Regions from separate parts of the Homo sapiens genome. Here all the other regions are linked to region 1. The links come from fine-mapping of genetic effects on gene expression. A gene starts in region 1. Each other region holds a variant in brackets. All regions are shown on one strand. Distances are between the middles of the regions.

What was found. PIP is the estimated chance that this variant, and not a neighbour inherited with it, causes the effect. A credible set is the group of variants that fine-mapping cannot tell apart.
Region 2: its variant is the best candidate, but not a certain one, in a credible set for the expression of LINC02762 in whole blood (TOPMed, PIP 0.59).
Region 3: its variant is the best candidate, but not a certain one, in a credible set for the expression of LINC02762 in nasal epithelium (TOPMed, PIP 0.59).

What each region holds. Positions count from the first base shown.
Region 1 is chr11:112,265,668-112,276,342 of GRCh38, reverse strand. It overlaps LINC02762 (long intergenic non-protein coding RNA 2762), which reads right to left and starts at 5,594. Exons shown (of 4, transcript NR_126004.1): 1 at 5,560-5,594. It also overlaps the pseudogene ST13P10.
Region 2 is chr11:112,205,593-112,216,267 of GRCh38, reverse strand. BCO2 (beta-carotene oxygenase 2) reads right to left here. Exons shown (of 12, transcript NM_031938.7): 9 at 2,407-2,544; 10 at 1,324-1,506; 11 at 1-48. It also overlaps the pseudogene MRPS36P4. Among named protein-coding and RNA genes, the nearest start is that of PTS, 15 kb to the left of the region's middle. The variant A/G (reference allele first, on the strand shown) is at 6,607.
Region 3 is chr11:112,473,433-112,484,107 of GRCh38, reverse strand. LINC02763 (long intergenic non-protein coding RNA 2763) reads right to left here and starts at 1,876. Exons shown (of 3, transcript NR_120559.1): 1 at 1,653-1,876. LOC107984389 (a long non-coding RNA gene) reads right to left here. Exons shown (of 3, transcript XR_001748387.1): 3 at 9,601-9,874. The variant G/A (reference allele first, on the strand shown) is at 5,984.

The sequences.
Region 1 (10,675 bases):
AGCCCTCTCTCTGGCTCTCTCCCTCTCGCCTTGCTCAGAGAGGTTTTACACCAGCCCCTCCTAGGTCTCCTTTCTCCTTTCTCTAAGGGATGTCTCAACACCACTGACATTTCCTGAGTTTTCCATTTACTAGTCACTGAGGTCTTTTATGTGGACTGCCCAAAGCATCTAGAACCAGCACAGCTCAATAAACATTTGCTTAATTCAAACTCTGACTACTGTGCCACTGATTAGAATTTCAAGAGCTTCAGATTCATGTGCCCTGGAGGAAATGGGAAGGACTGGCTACCAAAGGTAGGATTTAAACCCGACTTAAAATCTAAGTACAATCCCAGTGCTTTAAGAAGCCGAGGCAGGTGCATCCCTTGGGCCCAGAAATTCAAGGCTGCAGTGACCTGTGATTTCACTACTGCACTTCAGGCTTTGAGACAGTGCTACAGAGCAAGACCCTGTCTCAAAGAAAAAAAAAAATTAGAGCTAGCCTAGGTTTATGGGAGGAGGTCATCAATGTCTTTAACTGTGAATAGTTAGAGAAGAAAGGAACTGACATTAGCCCAAATAAGTCATGGTCTTTGCTCCTGGGCAACATATGGAGACCCCATCTTTACAAAAAAAAATAAATAATAATAATAATAATACATAAGGTCGGTATGCAGGATGTCCATCTGCCCATTCATTTACATGACTGATTCAATCTCAATCTGAATGATAATGGGAGCAGAAAGGACTTCATCCCATCACCCCTTTCCTTCCTTTTCCCCTCTACTCACTTCTGAGGAGCCATCAGTAAGACAGAGAAAAAGACAGAGAAAAGAGATAAACTGTTCACAAAATAGTGTTGAAGGTGCCAGGAGAGGTAGTCATTGCTGTGTGTCTTGTTCACGGTCTACACCAAAGATACTGAAGGGCCTGAGCTCCCTGGGCACACATGGACCTCCCAGGATGATCCTCCCCTTCAGAACTGCAGTAGGACCTAGAAAGGCCAGCAGATATGAAAGATGAAGAGGACTGCGTAAGAGGAAGGGAGACCAGAGCAAGACAGCCCCCCAGAGGTGTGACCAAGAAGGAGTAGAAATATTCCAAGAAAGTGAAGAAATATTTCCCCCATCCTCTGGATGCTGTGTGCATCGGCTAATAATCAGTCTCTTACCGGAATGAACTGGACCTGCATACCCTCCTGTAAGCCACCAATGTCACCAAGGGTCCCAGTGTGCATTATAACTGTCATTGACCAGACAGACCCTGTACTAGGTGTTGTACCTACATTACCTCAGTGAATGCCACCTAACACTATGTGCCCAAGACCACGAAGACTTCCAGCCAGGGAGCTCAAACTCGAGGGCACATAAGAATCACCTTGGAGCTGGTTAAAATGACACAAAAAGTTATGGCTCCTAAATCTGGAGTGGGGTCCAGGAAAATGCATTTTAAATAAGCATCTTGTGGGGCCTTCAGCATCTGCATCACTGTCACAGGTTGCTTATTAAAAATGCATGTTCCTGGCTGGGTGTGGTGGCTCATGCCTGTAATCCCAGAACTTTGGGAGGCCAAGGCAGGTGGGTCAGTTAAGCCCAGGAGTTCAAGACCAGCCTGGGCAACATGATGAAATCCCATCTCTACAAAAAATACAAAAACTGGCCAGGTGTGGTGGTGCATGCCTATAGTCCCAGCTATAGGGAGGTTGAGGCAGGAGGATCACCTGAATCCGGGGAGGTCGAGGATGCAGTGAGCTGTGATTGCATCACCGCACTCCATCCTGAGCCATAGAGTGTAACCTTATCTCAAAAAAAAAAAAATGCATGTTCCTGGACCCCCCCACCTCTGACCTACAGATCCAGAACCTGTACGCTCCAGCCCAGCCCTAATAGGCTAGTGGCTTCCCTTTGGACCCTTGGGACCAGCCAGTCTAGTCACACCACAACCATTGTCCTCAGAGAAAGCCCGTCTCACCATTTGTCCTCCACAGAACATTCCTCCAACCTCCTCCTCCCGTTCTCACTATTCTCTCCATCGCAAACCTTCCCTCTCTGCCACTTAAAACTTCCACTGCTGAGTGAGCTCCCCTACATCTTCCACTCATTCCTTTCCCTTATGAGCTTAGATGAAACCACCAGGGGAAAAATGGCAGACATGAGCTGCAATGATGGCCACCACCCCAACTCAGGGGAGCTCAGTCATCTTAGGCAGCAGGCAGCTGCAGTGATAATGGCTGCCCCCACCCCCCTGGAAACTCTTAGCAGAGTTAACAGAACAGAGCTGTTAACAAAGCTGTGCAGAGTTAACTTAACAGAGCTGTGCAGATTCTCAGCAGCCACTTGACTGGGGTCTTAGGCAGTCTCCAGTCAAGTGGCTGCTGAGAATCTGCACAGCTCTGTGCTTGGGACCCAAGGCCCTGGTAGTGTAGCTCAAAAGTGGGATCTCCTGATCTGTGGGTTGCGCAGATCCGTGGAAAAAGTACGGTTTTCTAGCAGGGTAGCATGATCACTAACCACCTCCCTTGGCTTGGGGTGGGAGCTGCCCTTTCCCCGTGTGGCTCCCAGGTGGGCCGTCGCACCACCCGGCTTTTCTTCACTCTTCATGGGTCACATCAACTGCTTAGTCAGTCCCAGTGAGAGAACCTGGATACCCTGGTTGCTGGTGCAGGATTCACTTGCCATTTTGGTTCCTCCCAGTGGGAGCCTCTGACCACAGATGTTTCTAGTTGGCCATCTTGGCCTCTCCCCCCAGTACTAATATTTTTATATGAAGAAAATAGTATCTTTGAGGTTTTAAAGGCAACTGTGAAATAAAATTGTTTCACCTCCGGGTGAAAAAAATAAAAATAATAAACAAATAAAAATAAAACTCTGTTGCCTACAGATAGAATTCAAAATGCTTAGCATGACCTATAAGACCTAGCATGACTTGGCCCCTATTTACTTGCCAGCAACAGCATCTGTCACTCTTTTTCTTGAACATTACCTTTTCATTGTTCCCTGCTCACATCACACTGTTTTGTAATTCCACACTTCTCTCTTCCAGGAACATTCACCCCAACCTACCCCTATCCTTCAAAACAGTTCATCCAGGATGGCTGCAGTGACTCACACCTGTAATCTCAGTGCTTTGGGAGGCTGAGGCAGGAGGATTGCTTGAGGCCAGAAGTTTAAGACTGCAGTGAACTATGATTCACGCCACTGAACTCCAGAGAGAGAGAGAGAGAAGAAAGAAAGAAAGAGAGAGAGAGAGGGGGGAAGGAAGGAAGGAAGGAAAGAAAGGAAGGAAGGAAGGAAGGAAGGAAGGAAGGAAGGAAGGAAGGAAGAAGGAAAGAAAGAAAGAAAGAAAGAAAGAAAGAAAGAAAGAAAGAAAGAAAGAAAGAAAGAGAAAGAAAACCAGCTCATCCACCATTTACCCAAAAAGCATTCTTTCCCTTCTTTTGTACTCCTAAGGCTTACCTCTATCTTAGCATTTACGCATTATTTTGAAATTATGTTTATGAACCTGCCTCTTAACACTAACCAAAAGCTATTCAAAAAGAGGGATAAGCCAGGCATGGTGGCTCATTCTGTAATTCCTTTGGGAGGCCCAGGTAGGAGGATTACTTGAGGCCAAGAGTTCAAGATCAGCCTGGGCAACATAGCAAGACTCCATCTCTACAAAAAAATAAAAGTTTTAAAAAGGAGAAATCTTAACTGGTCTTTATGCCCCTGCCCTAAAGCTTACCACAATGCCTGCCACATATTGGACCCTCAAAACAAATTATTGATTAATTTTCACAATGGGACTACAAGGCAGGCATTACAAATGAAAAAAACTAAGTCCCAGAAAGCCAGTTACATTCCAGGGGATGGGAGGGCAGCAACTTGAAACCAACTCTACCGCTAAGGCCTAGGCTCTCTCAAGTACAACCTGGAAAACATGAGTGAGCAAGGAGATGGAGGTGAGAATGAGGTGTCAGGGCACCCACCCAGGACATGATGCGTGAGGAATGGAGGGATATGAAGGTGGACAAGATTCTCAAGGGTGGAAGAATATGGTCATGAGGCCTTGGCATTGTGGCTTCTAAGCAGAGCCCTGATACGCTAAACTGCCTGGCAATATCAGGCCAGGCAGTTTGGTCTGACATTGCCAGTTTAGCTGCCCAGGCATGTCTGCTAGCTAAATCTAAATGCTGGGCCTGAGGTCAACGTCCCCACAAATACCCACAACTCTGCTGCACAACCATATTCAGAGTCCTGCACTTACTCAGCCTCTGCTTGCTGAGCAAGCAGATACTACCTCTCTTGAGCACAAGCCTCCAGGAAGTTCCTAATGTAGATCAAGGTGGGAATATCCATGGAATATCCAAATTATATTAGAAGGCCAGGCAGGGTGGCTCACATCTGTGATCCCAGCATTTTGGGAGGCTAAGGCAGGCGGATCACTTGGGACCAGGAGTTTGAGACCAGCCTGGGCAACAGGAAAAAACCCTCTACAAAAAAAAAAAAAAAAAATTAGCCAGGCATGGTGGCATTCACCTGTAGTCCTGGCTACTCAGGAGGCTGAGGCAAGCGGATCAATTGAGCTCGGAGATTGAGGTTGCAGTGAGCCATGATGGCACCACTGCACTCTAGGCTGGGTAACAGAAGGAGACCCTCAAAACAAACAAGCATACAAACTAACAAACAAAGTATATTAGAAGATAAATAAATATGGACTTGAGTGGACAAGAGCATCTTTGCGCCTCAGCCTCTCCTGAGAGGTGCCTCTTCTCCCACCCACCTTCCAGGGGCCTTCCCCTACAAACCTAAACATAGAAGGCAGCCAATGAAAGGGACCAAGAGGCAGATTCCTGAGATAAGCCAAGGAAAGCCCAGGCCCAGGAGCCCACAGAATGAAAAGAATATTCTCAGACAGTAGCAAAACAGGAAGACTGTTCGACACAGCTGAATGCATGCATCAGAACATGGCCGTCCCCTGCACACCCTTCTCTGGAGCTCTTAGGCTAGAAGATGATTTCTTCTGGACAAGGAAGACACAGGACATGGGGTGAAAATAATTCCAGCAAAAGAAAGCTAAATACACCATCCCGTGTTTACAAAACACAGGAAAAGTAGCGAGGGTATAGAGAACCAAGGATAAAGGCAGGATGCCCTTTTCTGGTAAACTTCATGCCAAACAAAGGTGAAGGGCCAGGATTAGCTCATTAGCGGGGAACTCAGGGCAAGAACACCCTGCCCTCTGTTCTGTCCTCACCTGAATCTCTGGGACGAAGCCAAGTTGTCACCTCCCTAAATGGTTCTAGAAACAGAAGAGTTCATGCCCTGCCTGGGGAAGGGACTTCTAGGTCTTCAGCTCTAATCATATGTTTTATGCACAGGTGGAGACATTCAGATCCATGGCCCTCACCCTGTTTCTGCTCTGCAGACTGAGATAAGAGCCTTACGTTTACAAAGTTTCACAAGAAACTGGAATTTGTTGCCCTTCTTTTCCACCTCCCTTCAGCCAGCTCCACTTTTCCTCGGATGCCATGGAGACTCGTAACCAGCTGGACAGCATACATCCCAGAGCTGGAGGGGAGCACAAGCGACCCTGACTCACCTGCCGTTGCTCAGAAGGGAGAGAAACCTGTGAAACTCGGAAATTCCCTCTGGGGGAGGTGTGGCCAGCTCCCAGGCACCACCTCCGCGGAATCTCTCCAATCATAACAAGAAGAAGGAAAACAAGCAGTTATCCAGTGCTTTCTCTATGCCAGCCATCACGCTCCACAAGTATTATGTCGTTAAAAGTTCCCAACAGCCTTATGAGATGGGCACTGTCATTCTCCCCACTTTGTGGATAAGGAAATAAAGCAGTCGCATAAATTGGTCTGGGGTCACCCTTGGTTTCCCATTGGAGTGTAGGCTTCCTGAGGTTAGAAGTTGTTTTTATGGGCTGGGTGCAGTGGCTCACGCCTGTAATCCCAGCACTTTGGGAGGCTGAGGCGGGCGGATCACCTGAGGTCAGGAGTTTGAGATGAGCCTGGCCAACATGGTGAAAACCCGTCTCTACTAAAAATACAAAAATTAGCCCGGTGTGGTGGCAGGTGCCTATAATCCCACCTACTCGGGAGGCTGAGGCAGGAGAATCGCTTGAACCCAGGAGGCGGAGGTTGCAGTGAGCTGAGATTGTGCCATTGCACTGCAGCCTGGGTGACAGAGTGAGACTCCCTCTCAAAAAAAAAAAAAAGAAGTTGTTTATATGACGCTTTGGGAGTGATATTAAGAACATAAATGCTGACTGACCAACTGAAAGATTCGAAGCACCGTGGGTATTTAATAAATGTTATTATTGATTGCTATTAAAAATCATTAATATGATTTTATATGTCTCAGGAAGCAGTACTACAAATAATTCTGAAGTTACTCTATCAATAACAAATTATGTAAGTGACAAAATTGCATTTGTTCACAAGGCTAGAAATAGAGCCTAATTGTTTTCAGGAATGTGGACATTATTTGTTTTTGTTGATAAGAAAGATTAGCTGCTATGGTATAAGTAACGATATTTAGTTGCTACTACATAGTATCAAATCAGTGCAAAAGGAAAAATCACAGATCACGAGATATATGGCAGAAGTTAGAAGAATGTAAGGGAATTAAATGAATTAAAGGCTGTTTCTGTGACTCAATTAATTAAATGATATTGAAAAGAGAAGGTAGAAAGCTGGATTCAGGGCTGATTTTCAGGAGCCTAGTTGTAAATAATTAGACCACCCCTTGGATGTGTACACGACATCAATACCTCATAGCCTCCACAGGAGCAGGGTTCATCTCCTCCTCCCAGTACCTGCAACAACAGAACCAACACGGAGATGCCAGCACGGAAATTCCCACGATCACAAACCCCACCTTTCTCTTATCATTCTGCTCTACCTTTCTTTTCCCTATATCCTTAACTTCTTACATTTTAAATCTTGTTTTCCTGTAAGCTGCTTTAAGTCCTACCTGAATAAGGCAGGGTATCAGAAAATCAATACACTCTTCAGGAACTTAACCGAAGGGAATTTCCTGTGAGAGCACATGGCCTTGACTTTGCCCCTGGAAAGGTGTCCTCGTCACATCCTTGTCAGACCACCACAGGAACCCACAGTTCATCCTGCCTGTTCCAATTCATGTCCCACTCATTAAACCGTCCTGGTTTTTTTGTTTTGTTTTGTCTTATTTTGTTTGCTGCTGAATCCTCTGGTTAAACAGCAGGAGCAATGCAGCCAAATGTCTTGATAAAATGTCACACCTTTCCATGAAATTTCTAAGTGTAGCTATGCAGGACAGAGGAAGAGCCACTTGTTTCCAGTTACTGACCTAGGTGGGCTTAGTTCTCTTCAGGTTCCTGCAGTGGGTTTCCTCTCAAGCAGAGAATTCTTTCCTCTCAAAGGAAGAAGCCACACTAGCCATGTAAAGAGAGTGTCCAAACCTTCCTCTTCCGCAGCTGGAAATACCTTCCCAGTTCCTCTTCTGTTTGGGGACTGGGAAGCTCTGAGTCCCAACTTCTCTTGTCCAGTTTCACTTTCTCACCCACCAACCCCTGCTCTCACTCTACCACTAAGTGCCCTCAACACTGATCTCTCCCTAAAAGTGACTGAAATAAATGTCCAATTTTGGGGGGATGACTGATTCTAATGTTGGGAAGAGAAGCTTAAAAGATCTGACCTCCTACTCAGTGAGAAAGGGGTCCTTGAACACCCTTCTTGAGACGTAACCTCCCTACTCCTACTTAAATGCTAGCAATTCCTGCTTTTTGCCACAGTAATGCAAGGCATTTCTGGAAGTTACGATGCAAACTAAATCTTTTTAGATCTCTGGTTTCAAAACTTTGGATTTTAGGCACCTAGATAGGTGCTACGTTTTCATTTTGTTAAATAAGGACATTTAAAAAATAAATAGGTGCCCCCTTCTGCGCAGTCACACTGAGCCAGTGCCTAGGCCTGGAACCGGGCCACGGCCCCTCAGCTTCGTCCACCGCCTCCCGACCATGGACCCCCACAAAGTGAATGCACTTCGGGCTTTTGTGAAAATGTGTAAGCAGGATCTGAGCGTTCTGCACACCAAGGAAATGCACTTCCTGAGGGAGTGGGTGGAGAGCATGGGGGGTAAACTATCACCTGCTACTCAGAAAGTTAAATCAGAAGAAAATACCAAGGAAGAAAAACCTGATAGTAAGAAGGTGGAGGAAGACTTAAAGGCAGACGAACCATCAAGTGAGGAAAGTAATCTATTAATTGATAATGAAGATGTGATTGAACCAGACCCTGATGCCCCTCAAGAAATGGGAGATGAAAATGCAGAGATAACAGAGGAGATGATGGATCAGGCAAATCATAAGAAAGTGGCTGCTATTGAAGCCCTAAATGATGGTGAACTGCAGAAAGCCATTGACTTATTCACAGATGCCATCAAGCTGAATCCTCAGTTGGCCATTTTGTATGCCAAGAGGGCCAGTGTCTTCATCAAATTACAGAAGCCAAATGCTGCCATCCGAGACTGTGACAGAGCCGTTGAAATTTATTTCAGCTCAGCCTTACAAGTGGCGAGGTAAAGCACACAGACTTCTAGGCCACTGGGAAGGAGCAGCCCATGATCTTGCCCTTGCCTGTAAATTGGATTATGATGAAGATGCTAGTGCAATGCTGAAAGAAGTTCAGCCTAGGGCACAGACATTGCGGAACATCAGAGAAAGTATGAGCAAAAACGTGAAGAGCGAGAGATCAAAGAAAGAATAGAAAGAGTTAAGAAGGCTCGAGAAGAGCAAGAGAGAGCCCAGAGGGAGGAAGAAGCCAGACGACAGTCAGTAGCTCAGTATGGCTCTTTTCCAGATGGACTTCCTGGGGGAATGCTTGGAATGAGAGGGGGCATGCCTGGGATGGCCGGAATAACTGGACTCAATGAAATTCTTAGTGATCCAGAGGTTCTTGCAGCCGTGCAGGATCCCAAAGTTATGGTGGCCTCTTCCAGGATGTGGCTCAAAACCCAGCAAATATGTCACAATACCAGGGCAACCCAAAGGTTATGAATCTTATCAGTAAATTGTCAGCCAAATTTGGAGGTCAAGAGTAATGTCCTTCTGATAAAGACCGTGCTGAAGGAAAAGCAACCTAGATCACCTTATGGATGTTGCAATAATACAAACCAGCGTACCTCAGGGGTGCTTTGAAGATAATCCATATCCCTCTCCCCCAAATGCAGCTGAAGCATTTACCATGGTTTGCCATTAGGGTATTCATTCAGATAATATTTTCCTACTAGGAATTACAAACTTTAAACCCTTTTTAAACCTTAAAAATATTTAAAACAAATTTAAAGGGACGGTTAATTCTTATATTTTTCTTTACTAATCATTTTGGATTTTTTCTTTAAATTATTGGGCAGGGAAGATACTTATGTATGGAAGATTACTGCTCTAATTTGAGCAAAATAGAAGTTTATTAGTGCGAGGCAAACATAAAAAAATAAGTAAATAAATAGGTGAAGGAGGGGAAAATCTACCATCTATAATCTACAATGACTATAGTTTCATAAAAGAAAGAACAACAAAACATCAGAAAGCTATAACATCAAAATAAAAGGCAGGCTTTAAACCAAATCAACATTTCTTTCTTTATAAAAACTGTCATAATTTTGCCCTCATCTCTGTCATTCCATGAAAACAGGTAAACAGTTGATCAAGATCATTGCCAGCCTGGAGTTTGGCAATAATTGCTATAAAGCAGGGGTTATTTTCCCAGAAGGCCATGTGACCTGGAGCAGCTCAACCAGCCAACCCCAGTCCACTGACCACGGTAGGCCAACGAGGCAACACAAGTAAAGCACAGTGCAGATCCAGCTGTGCTCTCAACATGCAATTTTGGATTAAACGAAGACACAAATATGATCAACAAAAAGTCTTGAGCAAAGATAGAGCAACTAACTATTGCTGTGATAAACTTCTCTCCAAGTTCTATCAAATGTAAGTAGATGAGGCACGTGTCCCACACGTACAACAAAATATACACACGGCATATTAAAATTAACATGTGCTGTATCTGGAATATGTCTGAATCTGAAATGCTAAGCAGAGCACACATGTATTCCCTAGATAGTAAGCTGTCCAGTGGAGAGAATCCCCAGCTGGTGGGAAGGAGGCCGGGATCTGGCCCTGACTTTGTCACTAAGTAGTTCTTAAGCCTGGGGCAAGTTGTTTAATTTTTCTGTGCTCAGTTTTCTCAGACATAATAAGGGAGTTAGATTAAAATTATCTCTTAGGGCCAGTCCTGCTTGAAAATTCTTAATGTAATACATAGCAGCGTGTTCCCCCTCTCTGAGAATTTGTAAGTCCTCGGGGAATGAGAAGAATGGTATGCATCTTCTCAAAAGCTGACCACGGGCTATCCCTAAAGCATGGGGACTCTCACTTTGGGCTATTCAAAAGCATAACACCCACAATGCTGAACCAAAGAGCCAGAGGCACAACCCAATTAGCTCATAAATCAACATGTGTGGACTTGAACATCCATTGTGGGTCAACAAATGAGAGTAACTTCTCCAGCTACCCCCAGCTCCCTGGACGCCCTTGTCCCTCGAGTTAACACAGACACTTGCCATCGGTGGTAAAAACTTCCTCTTAGAGGGTTGACTCTGTGGCATGCATGTTACATGCATTACCTCTTTTAAACCTTAACACAATCCTGCAAGGTTGGTCG
Region 2 (10,675 bases), 60 kb after region 1:
TGGAACAAAAACAGGTTCTGAGGGATAAAAGCCATCTTCTCTCCAAACCTGCAAGTCCCAAAAAAAGCATTTGATAAAAGGCAAGTAGTAAGTAGGGAGCTTTCTATGGCTTTTGTCACTCCAAGCATGAATTTGGCTGTGATGTAGTTTGGATGTGTGTCCCCTCCAAAGCTCATGCTGGAGTGCTGAGCCCAGTGCTGAAGGTGGGGCCTAGTGGGAAGTGCTGGGTGATGGGGGCCAGTCCCTCATGAATAGCTTAGCACCATCCCCTTGGTGACAAGTGAGCTCTCGCTCTATTAGTTCGTCTGAGAGGTAGTTGTTTTAAAGGAGCATGGCACCTCCTCCTCTCTGTCTTGCTCCTACTCTCTCACCATGTGGCATGAGGCTCCCTCTTTGCCTTCTGCCATGATTCTAAGCTTTCTGAGGCCTCATCAGAAGCTGAGCAGATGCTGGTACCATGCTGGTACATCCCACAGAACTATGAGCCAAATAAGCCTCTTTTCTTTTTCCTTTTTTTTTTGTTTTTTTTTGTTTTTTTGTTTTGTTTTGTTTTGATTTTTGAGACGGAATCTCGCACTGTCGCCAGGCTGGAGTGCAGTGGCGCAATTTCAGCTCACTGCAACCTCTACCTCCTGGGTTCAAGTGATTCTCCTGGCTCAGCCTCCCAATTAGCTGGGATTACAGGCATGTGCCACCACGCCCAGCTAATTTTTGTATTTTTAGTAGAGACAGGGTTTCACCGTGTTGGCCAGGATGGTCTTGATTTCCTGACCTTGTGATCCATCCCCCTCGGCCTCCCAAAGTGCTGAGATGACAGGCGTGAGCCACCACACCCAGCCTAAACCTCTTTTCTTTATAAATTATCCAGCCTCGGGGATTTCTTTATAACAACACAGAACAGACTAACACAGGCTGTCAATAGAATATTCCAAAAGTAAAAGAATCAGGCCTACTGAGTTGAATATGGGAGAAAGAGAGGGAGTCTTTGCAGTCCCAGATTCCATCACCATCAAACACAATTTGTGTAACTATAATTTGCCATCAACTTTAAATATAGGTGTCCTAACAACCCTAACCCCACAATTGCTCCCAAAATAACATCAAAATCAAACATAGAATTATTTTGCTGGGCCTGGGGTCAATTTGGATTCCCTAGAAGGAACATACCCCTAACTTAGATGATTTCATAGTTCTCAAATAAAAGAAAATGGCTCAGCTGCTTAAATACTGAAGAATCTTAAGAGCTACTTTAAATAAAACAAACTAATTCAAAGGGAAGAACAGGTCTCTGAAAAGTTCAAAAAGGAAAGAGTTTTTCATCACCTTCAGTGTCTTATTCACCACATCAACCTTGATCAGAGAATCCCCCACTAAATGCCGAAAGCCACAGCCATAAAAGAAATGATACTTTTTGCCACTGAATCGATCATAGTAGATCTGAGGAAATTCAATGCCTCCTTCCTTTTCTAGGTCCTCCTGATGTAGATTTTCATGAGAGCACCAGATCTAAAAGAGATTTCAAAAGGATTTGTAGTGGTTGCTTAATTCTTATTTTCCTCTTATGTAGGTCAGTGAGGAGCCTCATACCCTATAAAGGTTTGTGACAGGGCTTGGGAACTGAGGTTCTATGTCATGTTTTAATATTGTTCCTCTTTCCATCATATGTGTGGATGCATAATGATTATCAAGTTTTATTAATAAGCTGTCAAATGACATAGGAGGTGGAGATATGCGTTTTATTCTTCTAAAGCTAAGGCATTGACAGCTACACAATGATAGGTCTGTGCTAAGCACATATTATCTAAAAGGTGGGGATTGCAGCTGGACGCGGTGGCTCAAGCCTGTAATCCCAGCACTTTGGGAGGCTGAGGCGGGCGGATTACCTGAGGTCAGGAGTTCGAGACTAGCCTGGCCAACATGGCAAAACCCCATCTCAACTAAAAATACAAATACATTAGCCGGGCGTGGTGACAGGTGCCTGTAGTCCCAGCTACTCGAGAGGCTGAGGCAGGAGAATTGCTTGAACCCAGGAGGCAGAGGCTGCAGTGAGCCGAGATAGCACCACTGCACTCCAGTCTGGGCGCCAGAGCAAGACTCCATCTCAAAAAATAAAAATAAATAAAAAATAAAAGGTGGGGATTGCTAATGCCAAGCTCAAATGGATAGACATTCCACAACCATTAGACAGTTCCATATCTCTGTTTCAAAGCACAGGAAGGATAGATAAACACTGTGTTCATTCCCACTGTTTCTGCAATTCTTGTGCAAGCGATGTTACATAACCTTAACCTGCTCGGATGAATGTTATAAAAGTTATTGGGTACCAGACATTTTGGAAAACAGCTAAAGAATAAAGTAACACCATTAAAGTTCAAAGTCTTAGTCTAATGTCTGTTCATAGCATACCGTTCCATCAGCCTGTTTCACAGCACTGGCTGAAGTATAGGACAATGGACTCAGGTTGTCTCCCTCAGGGGCATTCAAACTGACATTTAAAGGCAAAACAAACCTTCGAGGGAAAGATTTGGCTGCTGAATTATGGACCTGTTTGGGAAGAAGAAAGAGATGAAAATTGTCATTCATATGGTAACAGTATGTCCCAATAATTTAGATCCAGTCAACATCATTGGCATTCCTAAATATTTAAATAAATGATAATTTCCATTCATTCATCTACTTAATATTTGTTGAGTACCTACTATAGCCCAAGCAGTTTTAGACACTGGAGATACAGTCATGAATAAAGCAAAGTCTTTGGCCTCATATAATTTATATTCTAGTGGAGGAATGATAATAAAGAAATTTAAAAATTATAAAATATTTGTGGCCAGGTGCGGTGGCTCATTCCTGTAATCCCAGCACTTTGGGAGGCCAAGGCAGGCGGATCACCTGAGGTCTAGAGTTCAAGACCAGCCTGACCAACATGGAGAAACCCTGTCTTTACTAAAAATACAAAATTAGCCGGGCATGGTGGCTCATGCCTCTAATCCCAGCTACTCGGGAGGCTGGGGCAGGAGAATCACTTGAACCTGGAAGGTGGAAGTTGCGGTGAGCCGAGATCATGCCATTGCACTCCAGCCTGGGCAACAAGAGTGAAACTCCGTCACAAAAAAAAAAAAAAAAAAAAAAAAAAAAAGTTATTTAATTAGCATCAAATAAACAAATGATTATATAACAAAGAGTAAGAAACTAGAGAGTAACAAAGGGTGCTTTCCTTCTTCAGATTTGATCAGGTAGACCTCTGTGTGGAAAAGGATCAACTTAGTAAGCCTGGGTTGCTCAAACCCTGCACTATTTCAAGAAAGACTTGTTTTCATGACTGACCTTGGGCTGGTTGCTGGGAACTGAGCTCTTGGGATGTTCTGTCTGATAAGAGTGTTCTTGCATGTGCCAGTCCTTAAGTGACTCTGCAGTAGTTTGTCCAGATAGTTTATGCTAACAATGTGATTTATAATGAACACCTCCATTCCCTTGAGGATCTGGAACATCAGTAACTGAGGGTCATCATGTAGGGGTTTTATGCTTATATGATTCATCCCCAATAAAAACCCTGGACAAGCAGGCTTGGGTGGGTTTCTTTGGCAGACAACATTTTACACATGTTGTCACTAGTTCCTGGAGGAATTAAGCATGTCCATTGTGACTCTACTGGGAAAGGACTCTTGGAAGCATGTACCTGGTTTCCTCTAGACTTCATCTCATGTGCCTTTTCCTTTTGCTTATTTTGCTTTGTATCCTTTTACTGTAATCATGAGTCATGAGTATGACTATATAGAGTCTTTTTAAAAATTTTTAATAAAGATGGTATCTCACTATGTTGCCCAGGCTTGTCTCGAACTCCTGGGCTCAAGCAGTCCTCCTGCCTTGGGCTCCCAAAGTGCTGGAATTACAGGCGTGAGCTACCTCGCCTGACCTATTTTGAGTCTTATGAATCCTCCTAATGAATTATCAAACCTAGGGGTGATCCTGGGAACTCCCAACACAGCTTCTCCATAGAGATGATGTTTAAGCAGGAGACCCAAATAAAGTAAGTGTGTTTTTCCTGACAGTAAGTGCTTTAAGCCCATTTTCCTCTCTGAAATACTGTAGGATGGAGAACAAACTGCACCATTTCCTCCCATATACCTAGTCTATATGATCTCTGTAGCATGCAGAAATATTTTTAGTGAGTAAAGATTTAGTGCTATTCTTAAGATTCATAAAGTTATTAGCTTTTTTTTTTATAAAAGGTCACCATGGCTTCAGAAGTTACCAACTTTTTAAAAATGACTTTTAATTATATTTACAATTGTTTTCTCTTGCAAAACCATAGCTAACCCAAAAGACGCTTCAAATAATGGTAGATTACATTATATGGATCAACTACCCCATTGAAAACAACTAGAAATTATGGACAAAATGTTTAAAACAGCTGCCTGAAGGCACTGGTGAGCTAAAAAGACAGTGAAGAACAAAGGGGCCAGGTTTGGGATGAAAAGGAAACCCACAGAAACCAACTGGATACTGGGGCAAGTTTTTCCCTAACTACTTAAACATATGCTCAACATCATTAGTCATTAGGAAAATGCAAATCAAAACCACAATGAGATATCACTTCACACCCATTAGGATGGTTATTATTTTTTTAAAACCCAGAAAATAACAAATGTTGGTAAAAACGTGAAGAACTGGAACTCTTGTGCATTGCTGATGGTAGAAAAATGCTGTGGCCACCGTAGAAAAATAGTTTGGTTGTTCCTCAAAAAGTTAAACACAGAATTACATGATCTAGCAATTCCACTTCTAGATATATACCTAAAAGAACTAAAAAAAGGAATTTGGATATTTGTATGCCAATGTTCATAGCAGCATTATTCATAATACTCCAAAGATGGAAACAACCCAAGTATCCATCAACAGATGAATAAACAAATATTGTGTGTGTGTGTGTGTGTGTGTGTGTGTGTGTATACAATCGAATATTATTTAACCTTAAAAGGGAATGCAATTCTGATACATGCTACAACATAGATGAACTTTGAAAACATTATGCTAAGTGAAATAAGCCAGACACAAAAGGACAAGTATTGTATGACCCCACTTACATGAAGTACCTAAAATAGGCAAATTCATAGAAACAGAAAGTAGAATAGAGGTTACCAGGGACTGGAGGTGGGGGGAACAGGGAATTATTGTTTAATGGGTACAGAGTTTCTGTTTGAGATGATGAAAATGTTCTGGAAATGGATAGTGGTGATGTTGCACAACATTGTGAATTTACTTAATGCCACTGAATTGAACACCTAAAATGGTTAAAATGGTAAATTTAATGTTATATATATATACTTTCTACACCATAAAAAAAGAAATAATACAGAGATTTCCCATATATTCGTCATCCTTTTTTGCCAGTAGGAATGTCTTGCATAATTATAATATAATATCACAACTGGGAAATTTACATTGATACAATCCACCAACCTTATTCTAGTTTAACATGCATTCGTGTGTGTGTGTGTGTGTGTGTGTGTGCGTGTATTTAGTTCTATGCTATTTTATCATGTGTAAATTCATGTACCCACCACGCCACTCAAGATACAGAACAGATCCATCACCACAAGGATCCTTCACGCTACTTTTTGATAAGGGTATAGCCATAGCAACTCACTTACCCCTTAACCTTAAAGAGAAGGGCTTTTCAATAGTTTTGAGGGCTAGAGTGACAAAAGTTTGAATTTACGATTTTCCAAGAAGAGGAAGGCCTAGTAAACCTCTAGTCCTTTGGGTTGGGACCTCATAGGTCTGTACCCTATGAATAAGAATAAACAAGAAATAGTCCAGCTCTTGCATGGACTGAATCCTGCTTCAAATTATATAAGCAAGTGAAATTCTTCTCTAGAGGAAAATAACATCATCTTGTGTCTCAAAATATTTCCACAATTTTTAAAACACAATATTCTGCAAATGAAAGGAAATAACCAGCACATGAAAAGACAAGGCAACATGATTAAAAACCAAAATAAACAACAGATAACAGAAACAGAATCACAGAAGATCCAGATACTAGTTATCAGACTTTAACTATTCTAAATATGTTTAAGGAAATTATTTTAAACTGAGAATTGTGGTAGAGAACTATAAATTGGAAAAGAGAACCAAATCAATATTCTAGAACTGTAGATCTGCCTATAAGGAAATTTTCAAGTCTGGAAGGCTTTACTGTTGAATTATTCCAAATATTTAAGAAATAATATCAATCCTATACAATATCATCCAGAAAGAAGGAAAACAGAGAACAATTCCCAACTCATTGTATGAGACTAGAAAAACCACAAAACCAAAACCTAGTAAGAACATTATAGAAAAGAAAAAAATTAAAGGGCAATTTTATTCATGAACATAGATACAAAGAATTCTAAACAAAATAGTAACAAAGCAAATCCTGCAATATATTTAAAAGCAAATAAAATGCGACCAATTGGGATTTACTTCAGGAATGGAAGGGTAGCTTAACATTCAAAAATCAATCAATGGCTGTTATGAACATTTTTTAAAGAATCAGTCAATGTACTTCACCATGTTCACAGAATAAAGGATAAACGTTATATGATTATCTCAATAGTGCAG[A/G]AAAAAAACAGTTGATAAAGTCCAACATCCATTCATGACAAAAAATCTCAGTAAACTAGGAGTAAAAGGGAACTCTCCTAATCTAATAAAATGTATCTTTTTAAAAAGTTGTCCACACAAAACGTGCTAACAAATATTTATAACAGCTTTATTCATAATTGCCAAGAATTGGAACCAACCAAGATGTCCTTCAATAAATGAATGAATACACATTTCAGCGATAAAAAGAAATGAGTTCTCAAGCCACAAAAGACACAGAGGAACCTTAAATGCATATTGCTAAGTGAAAAAAGTCAGTCTGAAAAGTCTACATACTGTATGATTCCAACTATGTGACATTCTGGAAAAGTCAAAACTACAGAAATAGTGAAAAGATCAGTGGTTTCCAGGGGCTGAGAGGAGGAAAGGGGAAGGGACGAATGGGGGAGCACAGGGAGATTTTCAGGGCAGTGAACTATTCTGTATGATATTGGTAGATACATGACATTATGCATTTTTCAAAACCGGTAGAACTGTACAACACAGACCTAACCATCATGTAAAGTATGGACTTTAGTTAGTAATAATGTAACACTCCTACATTGATTCATCAGTTGTAACAAATGTACCATTAGCAGGAGAGGGAAATATGGAAACTCTCCATACTTTCTGCTTGATTTTTCTTTAAAAGTAAAATTGCTCTAAAAAACAGTCTATTTTTTTTTGGAAGTCCTTTATTGTAAAGGTAATTCTTTTGTCTGATGACAAACAGCAGCCACAGTGATTATTCTGGATCTCCACAATGGACAAATTCAATTTCTTCTTGAGACACAAGTTTACTTCTATATTTCTGAGGTAATGTTTTCATTACTTCTGCAGTGTCTGGTACATCCACAAATCCAGTAATTTACTTCCCTTAGAATGCTGGGAAATTGCAGAATCGTGAGATGGTTGCCCTGCTGATCTCAGAGCTTCTGGTACATTGGGTTTAGGATTGTCTCTTCCAGCAGGGAAGCTTATTAATGGAGCATGTGGCTTGACTACCTGAACGACACTGCTAGCAGATGCATCTTGCTGCCCATCATGACCCCCGAGAAGGGACAGTTTCTATTATATTTTTTTAATCTACAGCCACAGCATGCTTCATGGTAAAATGCTGCAAGCTTTGCCTCTCAGATTGGGAACAAGTTAAGGATGCCATTATCATCACTTATATTCAACACTGTACTGAAGATCCAGTGAAATAAGACAAAAAAAAAAAAGCCAATATACAGCTTACATGTAGAGTTAGAAAAGGAACTATCATTACTTGCATATGATATTATAGATGTAAAAATCTAAAAGAATCTATAATTATTAGAATTTGTAAGTGTAATTACTATATTAGTGAATATAAAATCAACAAACAAAAATCAATTGCCGGCCAGGTGCGGTGACTCATTCCTGTAATCCCAGCACTTTGGGAGGCCAAGGTGGGTGGATCACTTGAGGTCAGGAGTTCAAGACCAGCCTGGCCAACATGGTGAAACCCCATCTCTACCAAAAAAATATGAAAATTAGCCAGGAATGGTGGCACATGCCTGTAGTCCCAGCTACTCAGGAAGCTGAGGTGGGAGTATTGCTCGAACTCAGGAGGCAGAGGTTGCAGTGAGCTGAGATCACACCACTGCACTCCAGCCTTGGTGACAGAGTGAGACCGTCACACTGTCTCAAAAAAAAAAAATTGCTATATAGCAACACTAACATAAAATGAAAGCAAAAAATAAACAACATTTAAAATAATGTAAAAAAAAAACCTAGGAATAAATCTAACAAAAGATGCAGAAAATATGTAACCAGAAAACTATAAACATTGAAAGAAATTAAAGAAGTCTCAAATAAATGGAAAGATATATTGTGTTCACGTACTGGAAGACTCAACATTGTGTAAAGAGGTTAGTCCTCTCTCAAATTGATACATTGGTTCAGTGCAAATAGAATTAAAATGTGACCATATTTTTGTGTGGGGAACTGACAGCTGATTCTAAAATTTCTACAAAAACGTGAAGGGCCAGGGATGGCCATGACACTCTTTTCAAAAGAAAAATATTAGGATAACTTGACACTAAACCTTAAGACTTTTTTAATGCAGTGCACAAGTAACCATAAGTAGAAACAATGGAACAGAATATACAGTCCAGAAACAGAATAATGCATATACAGATACTTGACTTCTCTAGAAGATAACATAGGATAATATTTTCATTACCTTGCCATGAGAAGATGTCTAAAACAAGATGTACAACGTATAAGTCATAAAGGAAGAGACTGTATACTGGGCCATATTAAGTTAAGAATGTTTATTCATTAAAAGGCACTATTAGGATAATCTGATAAAGATAGCTAGAAAAATACCTATAGCAATTTTATATTTAATAATGAATTATTAAACATTTTTCAACACTACCTATTCAACTTCTATTCACTATCTTGCACTTCTATTCAACTCGAAGTCCTAGCTGGTACAGTAAGGCGAGAAAAAGAAATAAAGCCCTAAGTATTAGAAAGAAAGCTGTCATTATTTTCAGGTAACATGACTGTGCACATAGAAAATCCAAAATAATCTGTGGATCAACTATTTGAACTAATAAGTGAATTTAGCAAGATCTCTGGATATGAAGATAATATACAAAATCAATTGCATTTCTATAAAGAGCAACAAACAGAAAATGAAAGCTTAAAAGATACCATTTACAATAATTTCAAAACACACAAAAAGAAATGTAGTATCTTTATACTGAAAACTATAACTTTACTGAGAGAAATTTTAAAAGACCCAAATAAATGGAGGGATATTCCATGTTCATGGATTGGAAGACTCAATATTGTAAAGATGTCAATTGTCTCCAAATTGATCTACAGTTGCAATATTGTATCAGGTTTTTTCCTTGCAAAAACTGACAAGTTGACATCAAATTTAAAAGTTTCTGCACAGCAAAGGAAACAATCAACAAAACGAAAAGGCGACCTATGGGCTGGGGAAAAAAATTGCAACCACATATCCAATAAGGAATTATACTCAAAATTTGTATATTTTTAAATTTTTTTGTAGAGATGAGGTCTTGCCATCTTGCCCAGGCTGATCTTGAACTGCTGGGCTCAAGCAATCCTCCCACCTTGGCCTCCCAAAGTGCTGGGATTACAGGCGTGAGCCACCACACCTGGCCTCAAAATTTATAAAGAACTCTTACAACTCAATACCAGAAAAACAAATAACCCAATTAAAAAATGGGAAAAGCCGGCCGCCGCCCCGTCTGGGAAGTGAGGAGCGCCTCTGCCCGGCCGCCCACCGTCTGGGAACTGAGGAACACCTCTGCCCAGCTGCCGCCCCTGCCGCCCCAGGAGTGCCTCTGCCCAGCCGCCCACCCTCTGGCAAGTGAGGAGCGCCTCTGCCCGGCCGCTGCCCTGTCTGGGAAGTGAGGAGCGCCTCTGCCTGGCCCCCACATTGTCTGGGATGTGAGGAGCGCCTCTGCCCGGCCCCCGCCCTGTCTGGGAAGTGAGGAGGACCTCTGCCCAGCTGCCGCCCGTCTAGGATGTGAGGAGCGCCTCTGCCTGGCCGCTGCGCAACCTTCCAAGTGTGAAGTGACAGCCTTGTGTGTGATCTTTTCTGTCTTCCCCAAGTTTGCATTTTCAATATTAAAGTTTACTTTTTAATTAAAAGTTAAAAATAAATTAATTAATTAATTAATTAAAAATAAATAAAAAATGGGCAATGGACCTGAACAGTCATTTCTCCAAAAATAGAGGCCAGGTGTGGTAGCTCACACTTGTAATCCCAGCACTTTGGGAGGCTGAGGCAGGAGGATCACTTGAGCCCAGAAGTTTGAGAAAAGCCTTGGCAACATAACAAGGCCCCTGTCTCTACAAAAAAGTTTTAAAAATATTAGCTGAGTGTGGTGCCATGCACCTGTAATCCCAGCTACTTGTGAGGCTGAGGCAGGAGGATCATGCATGCCCAGGAGTTTGACAGCAGCCTTGGCAACATAATAAGACCCTGTCTCTACAAAAAAGTTTTTAAAATATTAGCTGAGTGTGGTGCCACGCACCTGTA
Region 3 (10,675 bases), 210 kb before region 1:
AGAAATACAATCTCTATTTTCCAGGCTGTTCACTACACAAACACCCTTGAAAAGATAGTTCAGAGCAAAGGGAAGTTGGTGCTTGTCTCCAGAATGTGCAGAAATGGGAGAGATCTGTGAAGGACTGCCTCTCATCACACCCTATGCTGGAGCCCCTGACTTGCTCATCAGCTTGCCCCTGCTAGTTCAGAGTGTCCTACCTCTGAATCCCAATTCTGCAGCTGGGACCTAACAGCTAACTACCTATGTCCAAGCACCTGAATTGCTCATAATTCCCTAGATTACTTCTCTCCAAACTTTCTTCTCAGGCAAATGGGTGCCCAAGTCTCTGATCCCTGGTGGGAACTCTCCAAGCTAGAACAGAACATAAGAATGTGTGGAGCTAGCCAGAGGCTGCAGAACAATGAGCCAGAGAAGACAGTAGGAGCATCATTCAGGTTAAATGGAGGGTTGCAAGCTAATCACACAATCCAAATCACTAGTTCTCAAACTTCAGTGTTTTGGTGTTGAAGTTATTTCACAACTTCAGAGTGTAGCAGAATCACTTGGAGAGAGTGCTAAAACACAGATTGTTGGGCCCTAACCCAAATGCCTCTGATTAAGCAGGTCTGAGCTGGGGCCTTGCAAATATGCACTTCTAATAAGTTCCCAGGTAGTGCTGATGCTGTTCTGGTCTAAACTTTGTCCATCCAAGGTAACTGGGCTGAGAAATAACAGTCAGATTGAGACCAATGGAAGGCCAAGTGGAGGAGGTAACAGGAAGGTTTAGAAGAACCTGAAGGGATATGATTCAGCTGTGCAACCCAGAGGCCAGACACTTCCTATAAAGCTCCCTCAGCCTTGCCTGTGGGTCAGGGAGAGTGCTATTATAGGGTCATTTAGGGCAGTGGGATGTTGGGCTTCCATCATGTTGACTACTCGTTATCCCAGATGCTATGCCCCCTGTTAAACATGGCTCCTTCCAGTGTCTGTGGCTGGCTCTGCTCTTAGGGTCTCATCCTACCCCACAGGTAGACCTTGTTGGAGTTTCTGTTCCTCCCAGCCCGCCTGCTCCCAGTCAAGCTAACCCAGCCATGTTAGTTAGCCTGTTTCCCTTCCCCACATTTATAGATCATACACACCCGCCAAATTCATTATTCTCCCATCTCTGCTCTGTACTCAAGAGGCTGATACCCTCACAGACTACAATACCTGGGCTACCTTGTGGCCTGTTTCCAGTTCCATCTGGCTAAAGGGACACACTGGCAAAGATCAAAGGATGACAGATGAGTTTCAGCTGTTCACTCTCCTCCTTCCTCCTCAGAGCTGTATCTCTCGCAATATTTGCATCCCATACTGTCTCTTCTGCTGAGTGGCCCCTGCTCCATGGTACCAGCTTTAAAACTGGAATATCATTTCTATAAAGCCATTTCCTCCTCTTGTCCCTTCAGTGCTCGGGGTGGTAATGGCTTCCTGCTGTTATTTCAGGGGCATCACTACCCATCACCTGTTCCCCTGGTCCTGCCTACACTGCTGTAAGCAGTTCCTTCAGTGAAGTCTCCTAAACCTCTGAGCAAGATTCTGTTTCTACTGAGAACCCTTGAGGGACATAGTCGTCTCGCCTGATCACACCCCAAGGTGTACCATAGCTCCTCTCTGCTGGGTGGAGGTACCTGAAGTGGGCCCTTCTCAGGAATTGAATTGATAAAGAGCTTCCTATAACTTCTTGAGAATCCATCTTGAACTCCACCCCACTCCACAGGGCTCCCCTAGTGATACGAAGACGGCAGCAAAGGTGAAGCCACATCAGACATGACTGAGGTCTTGTCAGCCAAGCATTGGTGGGCTCCTCTCCCCAGAGAGCTTCCCTCAGTGCCAACGAGCAATAGAGCAAGGCTGCCCCCCAAGAGCAAAAGTGCTCCTAAGGCCCTGCTAACAGTTTCCCAAAGTCTTGTCAGGAACAGGAGGCTGGTACCAGCAGCACTCCGGAGTCTCTGATGTTGCCATGGTAGCAGTAGGGTCACTGCTTAGCAACAGACCAGAGCTGCAGGAAGTTGCTAAGGTATTTTCACATGTGTTAAAGCAAATGGATGTTTATCTCAATCTTGAGTGTAAATACACTGTAGGGAAAAAAAGAGAAAACATGTACACACAAACCACCTACTGATGTTCAGAGCTGCACGTCTGCTGATACTTGAGGCCTGAAGCATATGCCTTCTCTCTGGAGGAAACAGAGAGACCATAGATGACCCAATGAAGTACATCCTCTTACCCCCTAAAACAACTGTTCACCTGTCTTCCCACCAACCCAGGCTTAAAACCTTCCCCATCATTTAATTTCCAATAGAATTTCCAAATCTTTCTCCTAAATGGTTTTTGAGAGGCCATGTGGCATACTAACTAAATGTGTGGACTCTAAAGCCAGACTATGTGAGTCCAAAGCCCGGCATTGGCCCCCTCTTTCTTTGTTACTTTGGACAAGTCACTTAATATCTCTGTGCCTCAACTTTCTCATCTGTAAAATGGGTATAATACTAGTGCCTACCTTACAGGATTATGTGAGGATTAAATAACTTCTTCCATGTCAAGCACTTTCAACAGTGCCTGGTATACACTGAGGGCATTGTTAGGGATAGCTGTTAGTAACATTCAGTGATATCATGGATACTTTCCCATTTGCCAGGCTCTATATAAAGAACGAAGCATATAAAAGTTAGCAAGAAATTGGCCCTGTCTTCATGGGGCCCACAGCTATTCCAGTGCTAGTTTGGCAATGGTAAAGACCCAACTCTTTGGATGGTTCTTCAAAATACCCCCAAATACTGACCTTGTCTCCTTAAGGAGTAGTTGTGAGGTTTAAATAAGGTAATCCATGTAAGAGTTCAGAATGGTGTCAGGCATACAATACAGGCTCAATAAAAGTTACCTATCACTACTAAAATTATTTTATTATTCCTTCCCACAAACCAGCTCCAAACTTGTCTGTGTTCAAGCCCCTAAATAAACTCATGCACTCCCACATCTGGGTTCTTCTTGACACTGCCCATGACCATCTGGAATACTTTCCCGTTTCCACCAGTCTCGTGTCCGCATGACCTGCAAGACCAGGTTCTGTCGTACCTGTGCTTGAAAGCCCCTCACCTACTCCACGCCATGCTCACCCCTCCACCCTAACTAGGTTGAAACTCCCATGGAGGTCAGTGTCTCTTCTGCCTTGTGTTTGTATTTTGCTTTCTAAGCCACAAGCCCTCTGTATGAGACTCTTCTTATGCATCTTCTCAGATCCCCTCAGCCTCATCTGTCTTGGGCCCTTTACCACTGTTCCACCTCTATTGTCACCAGTGACCAGCTCTGCACTGCTGTGACCAGACAGCAGTTCTATGGTAACCAGCTTCACCCAACAGCCACCCAGTCACCAATGCTGGCTCCTAGGGCCACTTTACCACACAATGCATGTGTGATCATGGAATTCACCAGTCTTACTAAGGCCCCCATCATCCAGAAGCAGCATCCTGAAGGAATGGCAGAATGAGCAAAGGCACCTGCCCTGTAACAACACACCAAAGGGTTAGGACACAATCACTGGTGATGTGGTATGTGCACTGAGCAATGAATGATGTTGGCATTGTATATGGTGCTGTGTCCCAAACAGCAGGGATACACAGTCTGGGAACCAAGGAGTGGATGTAGGACTTGTCTCTCTCATCATCCTTCCCACTCACTCAGAATTTGTGCAGTCTATAGCCTGGACCCTGCTGGATAAGAGGTCTGGTTGTCAGGGAAGAAACTCTTCTGCCAGTGAGGTTCCACTGAACTTAAAGCTGACTACCACTTAGTCACTTGGCACACCTCATGCTAATGGACAACACAGGAGTTATCATACTGGTGGGATTAATAACCCTGATTACCAGAAGAAGCTAGAGTTGTGGCTGCACAACAGGAGGAGGAAAGATTCTTTCTAGAACCCAGGGGTTTCAGTGGGGCTTTTCTAGGTGCTTGAAACCCAGCAAAAACTATAAAGGGGCAATTGCAGCAACCATGGTTTAGCAAGGGAATGGCAAGCAAGGGTAAACATAGCCTAGTTCTTTGCTACCCAAACATGCCCACGGACAAGCAGCATCAACACCACCTGAGAGCTTCTAGAAATGCAGAAGCCCAGGTCCCTCCCCAGACCACTGAATCAGATTCTGCATTTTAACACAATTCTCAGGTGATTCAATGCACTTTAAAGTTGAAAAGCATACTCAGCAACCCACTGGAAAAGCAACCTAGCTAGAGGTGAGAGAAATCTAGAATCAGTCATGGAGGTGGTTGAGCAATGAATATTCGTTACGGCCTAAAACCAGCAACAGGAGTGGGAACTGTAGCTTCTTTTCCTTATACTCTTCAGAGAGAGTGGCTGGTCACTGCCTTGATGGAGAATTAATGACCAATTGCTGGTAGAAATGTGAAATGACGCAGTCTGGCATTTCCACCAAATGGTAAACATAGAATCACCCTGTGACCCAGCAATTCTACTCCTCCCGAGAGAAGTGAAAACCTAAATTTCTATATGACTGTTCATAGCAGCCTTATTCATAATAGACAAAAAGTAGAAACAACCCAAATGTCCATGAAAATTATACAGGAGGATCCTTGGAAATTATACAGGATCCTCCCTTTCTCTGAGGAAAGGGAGGAGAACGATAAAAACTTGCCCCAAGTCACACAGCCTGTTCTAAGTGGAAATTATACAGGATCCTTGATTTTTCTATCAGGATAAGGATGGGAATATAAAAATGAATAGAAAGTTGGTGGTGAGAAAGAACGCTTAAGCTGGTGAGACAGCTGATAAAAATTTCTGCTGAAAAGTAAGGACATTTTCCCAATAGTTCCATGTAATCCAGATGGGAAATCACCAAAATCTAGAATGAGCATCCTAATGGAAATGTGGTCTGGAAAGGTGGGCTGGGAGTCCCCTTCACTAAGCAGGAAAGAAGCCGGCTGTGTGAGAGAAGAAAAAATACTACGCACAAAAGCTTTCGTCTTAATCTGACCTCAGAGAACAGCATGTGTGCCTGGCGTGAGTACCTTTCAGGGAGTGTCTGGGTTTCCTGTACCCCAGGGCCTGATCCACTACAAATACATAACAAGTACTTGATAAAAAAATCTAATTGGATTGTGTCTGTGCTGGAGCTAAACAGTCTCTTGCTGTTTAGGGGAAACCCCATGTCCAGTACAACCCCAGCACCTAACAGAGTGCTTTGCACTTAATGAGCATTCAATAAATATTTGTGAAAGGAATAAATGGCTAAATGAATAAGCACTTTTAAGCCTGAAGACAGGTTACTGCCTGTATTTGTGAGACCTAACAGAGTGAGAGAAATGAATTAGCAAGTTTAACTCCTAAGGGAAAAAAGAAAGTAATGACTGCGCTTTGGCCCCCAAAATGTTATCTCCCTCATCCACCATTACCACCAGCATTGAGGTGGGACATCTGCAATTTGGGGCCTGGGTTTTAAAAAAAATCCCCCAGTTGCTGATTTGGGAGATGGCAACATAGAATCTTCTATCTAGAAGAGACCTCAGAGATCCCGGAGCTATTGGAGAAAAAGAAGCCCAGAAGAACTGTCATTTGTGAGGATGTGACAAATGGCTGGGTAATTTCCCAAGGATAAGCTAAACCCGGGCAGGGAGTTCATGCATCAACAGCAGTACCTATAATATCAGAAGTTTAGGAAATTGACACTGTGTCTGTCACACATTATTTGAAGTGAATACTGTTCTGGATAATTCACTCTTCCCCAAACTGTGGATATATGATGATGGTTTTGCTGGGACATATTACAAAGGGAAAAAGAAATCTTCCCAAATGCTCCCATGCAGAAGGTGCAAATTTCACACAGGTGACTCATGATGAAGGGCCTGCAGAGACCTACAGACTCAGCCCATTTCCCAGAACTGCCCCTAGAGAAACATTCCCAGGCCAGAACTTCAGAAACCCAGTCACCTACTGCAAGCACTA[G/A]CATGATAAGGGCAAAACTGTTCCCCAAGGAGAACTGTGCCCTTGGGCAGAGCAGTGGAGCGAATTAATTTCTAATAATGAGACTGTGAGCTACAGTGTTTGTCTACAAAACAGGCTTATTCATGAAGAGTAAATATGTCAACTAATTCAAGAGGCATGCTAAATCTCCATTGTTTTCTGTAGTTCAGGTTTCTTGGCTCTGTAAAATGTGATGCACCCCTTCAATGTGTGCAGCAGAATCTGTGAGATTGCAGAATGCCACATTAAACTCAGAGCTCCTGGGCTAATTAGGGTAAATCCATTTTGCAGTAATGAATTGTTGGTAATAGCCCATCATGGAGCAGATGTCTCATCCATCATTGCCCCGGGAGTCCGACACTCTGTAGTACTCCCATCAGATACGGAGGGGGCACAGCCCAGGGAGGCGATCCTCATCTCTGGACTCCCGAGGGCAGCCAATCCTAGGAGGTAGAATCAGTGGGTGCCTATCCAGTGTGATTTAAGGTCCCCCAAATCCTCCCTAACTCAAAATATGTCCCCACCCACTGCCACAGTGCTTAAAATATCCTCCTTTGAATTTTCTGCTATTAAAATGTAAATATGTCACCTGGAAGAAGTAACACATTAAATTAGCATCCATTATCACTCATTTTCACATTAGGGAGAGCTGGGCCCTGAGGAAAGGGAGGAGGACAGGTAGTCCTTGATGGAGGGTGGCTTAGAAAGGAGCTGAGCAGGACTCAGGCTGGTGGAGTGGGGCCAAGCTGGGGCACAGTGTGCGTGCCAGCGAACTCTTGCTCACCCCATCCTACTGACAATGTGGGTTTTTTAAGTGTATGCTTCCTCAAATTACCTGGGCAACCTAGTGGGGAGAGATGGTAACTTATTTATCTTTGCCAGTCCCCAGGACCTCTCCAGTAAATGCTTCTTGAATAAGTAAATTTCATCCTCACAACCCCCCAAAGGAAATCAGAGAAGGGATCATGACCATTTTATAGGTGCAGAATCACACTCATGGAGGCCCATTTTCTTGCCCAAGCACATGGGACTGAGGAGGAGCAAGCTCTAGATAAACAAAAGGGCAGACAAAGTATATGTTTTTATCTACAGGAAATTGTATTTATGTGGGAACTAATGAGAAGTGAGAATAGAATAGATTAGGGCCACTTTTTGGATGCCTTTCAATGTCAGCCTGAGAGTTTGGGGTGTTATTCTGGGAACTTCTGAAAGTTTGTTTAGTGATTGAGAACACAGGAAGCAGAAGGATACAGAGAAATGTGCAAAGTGATATTTTCGGAAGGGTATTGGCATAGAGGAAAATAGGATGGGTTGGAGAATCAAGAAATTAAAGACTAGTAAAGAGATTCTTTGTGTGAATCAGAATCGGGAAGGTAGCAGTGGAAATAGGAGGGACGTATGCAGACGTATGTAAGAGACGTATGGATAACAAATAGATCAGTTGCAGTGACTGGTTGGAGGAGTGGGTGAGGAAGAAAGTGGATTGAGGGACATTGACTAGATTTCAAACCCACTTAACTGACAGAAAATCGACAGCAGTGGGAAATCTAGAGGAGAAGCGGGTTTTGATTGAGGATGGTAAGTTTCTTGCAAACATGTTGAGTAAGGTGATAATGGAACACCCAAATGAAGATGTGCATGGGGCTGATAGAAACTTGATGTCAAACCTCAAAGAGATTTAGTAGAAGCAACAAGGATAGGTGAAATCTCAGAGAAAGCGTAGAAAATGAGTCAGAGTCAGGACCTCTGACATGTCCACTTATAAAGGATGAGTACAAAATGAAGGAGACAGAGTCGGACAGTGTAGTGAGAATTGAAGCCAGTTATGAGTGTTTCAAAGGGTAAAGGTGCCAGTGCCAGAAGCTGCAGAAAGGTCAAGGAAAGCCAGGAGAAACTGCTATTGGGCTTCAAGAATAGACTCTCTGGTTATCTTCAATAGCACAGTCTCAGATGTGTGGAAAGTGCAGAAAAACTTAAATGCAATGGGGAGGAAAGGAAAAGATGGGAGGGGAAGAGAGATGGCTGTGCAGCGACAGTCGAGCCAAGCATGGCTGGCCTTGTTTTCTTGTCCCTTTCCATACAGGGAATGCTGAACCTCGATTTATGTGCAGAGAATGACTGAAATGCAAAAGAGAGCAGGAGATACTGGGGAGGCATCGATTAGAAGCAGCAGGAAGGGAGGGGCTGAGATGTGCAGGGGAGGGTAGACAGAAGAAGGTGGGGGTCTAGGTTGAAGAAAGGGAAAGAAGCAAGCAATGAGCTGAGTCCAAACAGAGATCATTTTCCTGGAAAAATCAGAAAAATATGTTCCCAGGGTTCAGCCTATAAAAAATAGTAGGCTCCCAGGGAACATGAGAGGGTTCCAGACAACAAAGGGCTGGATTCAGATGTTGCCAGGATTAATCTAAAGCAGGAGAGGAACAAAACTCATTTCCAAAGGAAGGATCTCATCTGTGTGTCGCTGACAGCCCCGATGAAGTCTATACCTAGAATTACAAGGCCATTGAACATCAGTGCTAGGAAGGCCCTGGGAAGGCCCTGAGACATCATCTGAGCCAATTCTCTCTCACTTCACCAACTGAGAAAATAAGGCCCAGAGGGGTGAAGTAAATTAATCAAGAAAACACAACTGGTTAAAAGTCAAACCTGGACCAGAACCTAAGACTCTTAGCTCCTGGTCAAGTGCAATTCTCACCAAATAGCAACTCTATGAGCTGGATTTCCCAATATACGATTGGGACAATTTCAATCTTATGTAATTTCTTCTTTCCAATAATGATCATGTTACTTAGATGTGTGCGTAACAAAACGTGATTTCATTTTTGTACCTTTGTGTGGCTTTTCATGTTAAAAATTTGGAAAAAAAAAGCAATAAATCAGGAATTGAAAATATTTGTCAGATCATGCCTCTCAATTTTTGGTTCTGCAAATATAGTCACTGCAATTGCATAGCAAAGTTATTAAAAGCATAGCTGTGGAGTTGAACAGACCCAGCTGCAAAGCCAGGTGAGCCCCACCACTTACTATTTGTGTGACATTGAATGAGACCTTGACCTCTGCTGGGAGAGGGTGGCAGAAGGGAGGGAGGCAAAGCAATCGACCACTCTGTCATTGTGGCCCTAAGCATGGAGAAAAGCAGCAGTGAGACCCAGAGAGGGAAGCCGTCAAAGCTGCCACTAATACCTGTTTCCCTTTGGAATAATCCCAGTGCTTTGGCCGGAGATGATTTGAAGGCTTTTTGAGAGGCACACCTGAAGAGAAAATGTAATTACTTTTTCCTGCAATTGAATTTCCAGGCAGTGTCCTTTCAAAATAAAAAAGGCACTTGAGGGGTGGAAGGGAGGATTAGGGGAAGAAATGAAGGATGGAGAAGGGCCATCCCCGCTGAAGCCGGTGACATTTCACCAAAGCTACTCCCTTTGGAAGCAGCTGGTGCAAATGTCACTCAGCGGAGACAATAGGAAGCAAGAGAGAGCAGTGGGATCTGCAGAAAATAACGTGATCCTCTCCTACTCCCACCAGCCACCCCTCCCCAACCCCCCAAACCCTGACCCTCTGGAAAGCAGTTAGGCCAGGCACTTAACTGACGTTGTTGGCCTTAGGGTGGCTGTAGATATCTTGTAGCTATGTCACGGCAGTCATCATGAAGCACATATCCAACCCCAGTAGAACTGCCCCCGTGTCAGCCCTGGGGATCTCTATCCATAGGAGGCAATGCCCTGACCTCCATCTCTCCCATGTAGACCAGTGGACCAGAAGAGAGTGTGCTGTGCAGCCATTTCCACCAGAGCATCCCAGGAGAAATGCAGCTGCTGATGATTAAAGAGTTGATTTCTACAACAGACAACCCTAGGGTTCTTTAAGTTGATCATTCTGGAGCACAAAAGAAGGAAGGAGAAGAACAAAGAGAGTTAAGCCAACCCAGGGTTGAATCCAGTTCTGCCACTTATTATATGACCTTAGCAAGTTACTTAACCTCTGCACTGCCTCACTTTCTTCATCTGAAAAAGAGGCATACTATTGCTCACAGGGGGTTAGGAAAATGAGATGTAATTGATCACAAGTTCCTGGCTGTGAGGAGGTACTCAACAGGCAACATTACATATACATATTTTTAAGGACATATCAAGTTCATGCACACTGACAAAAGAGCACAGGTCCCTGGCCAAGCTCTCAAAGTCACCTTGCAGGAGGATGGACATTCATAAAACTCCAAAAGGCAGGAGGAGACCTCTTTGAGGCTAATGATGTTCCCAGATAGTGGCTGTGTTGTCTTCAGAGACTGATGAAAGCTTCAGGACTAATGGACAGTTCTGCGGCCTGAGATCCTTGACCCACTGGCAAAACTACTTCTTAAATATCTCTTCTTGTTTTTCATTTACTTGCAATATATTACATATGCCTCCACATACGTTCAAAAAACTATTCAACGCAACTCTGTATGGATATGAAATCCACCTGCTAACTCAGTGTTTGGTACGTACACGGCCAGTGCTTACTATTGAGTGACGTTCAATGCCCTTATTAGGTCTTGTCTGAATGTGCTGTCCACATGCCGTTCTGCAAGGAGTCCTAGCCCTTTGAGAAAACAGTGGTGTCCAGAGTAAACTGAGGCTTTATTACCAACCTGTAGGGCTGGTTCTTATGAGGACTCTAGTGGACAAACTCAAATAA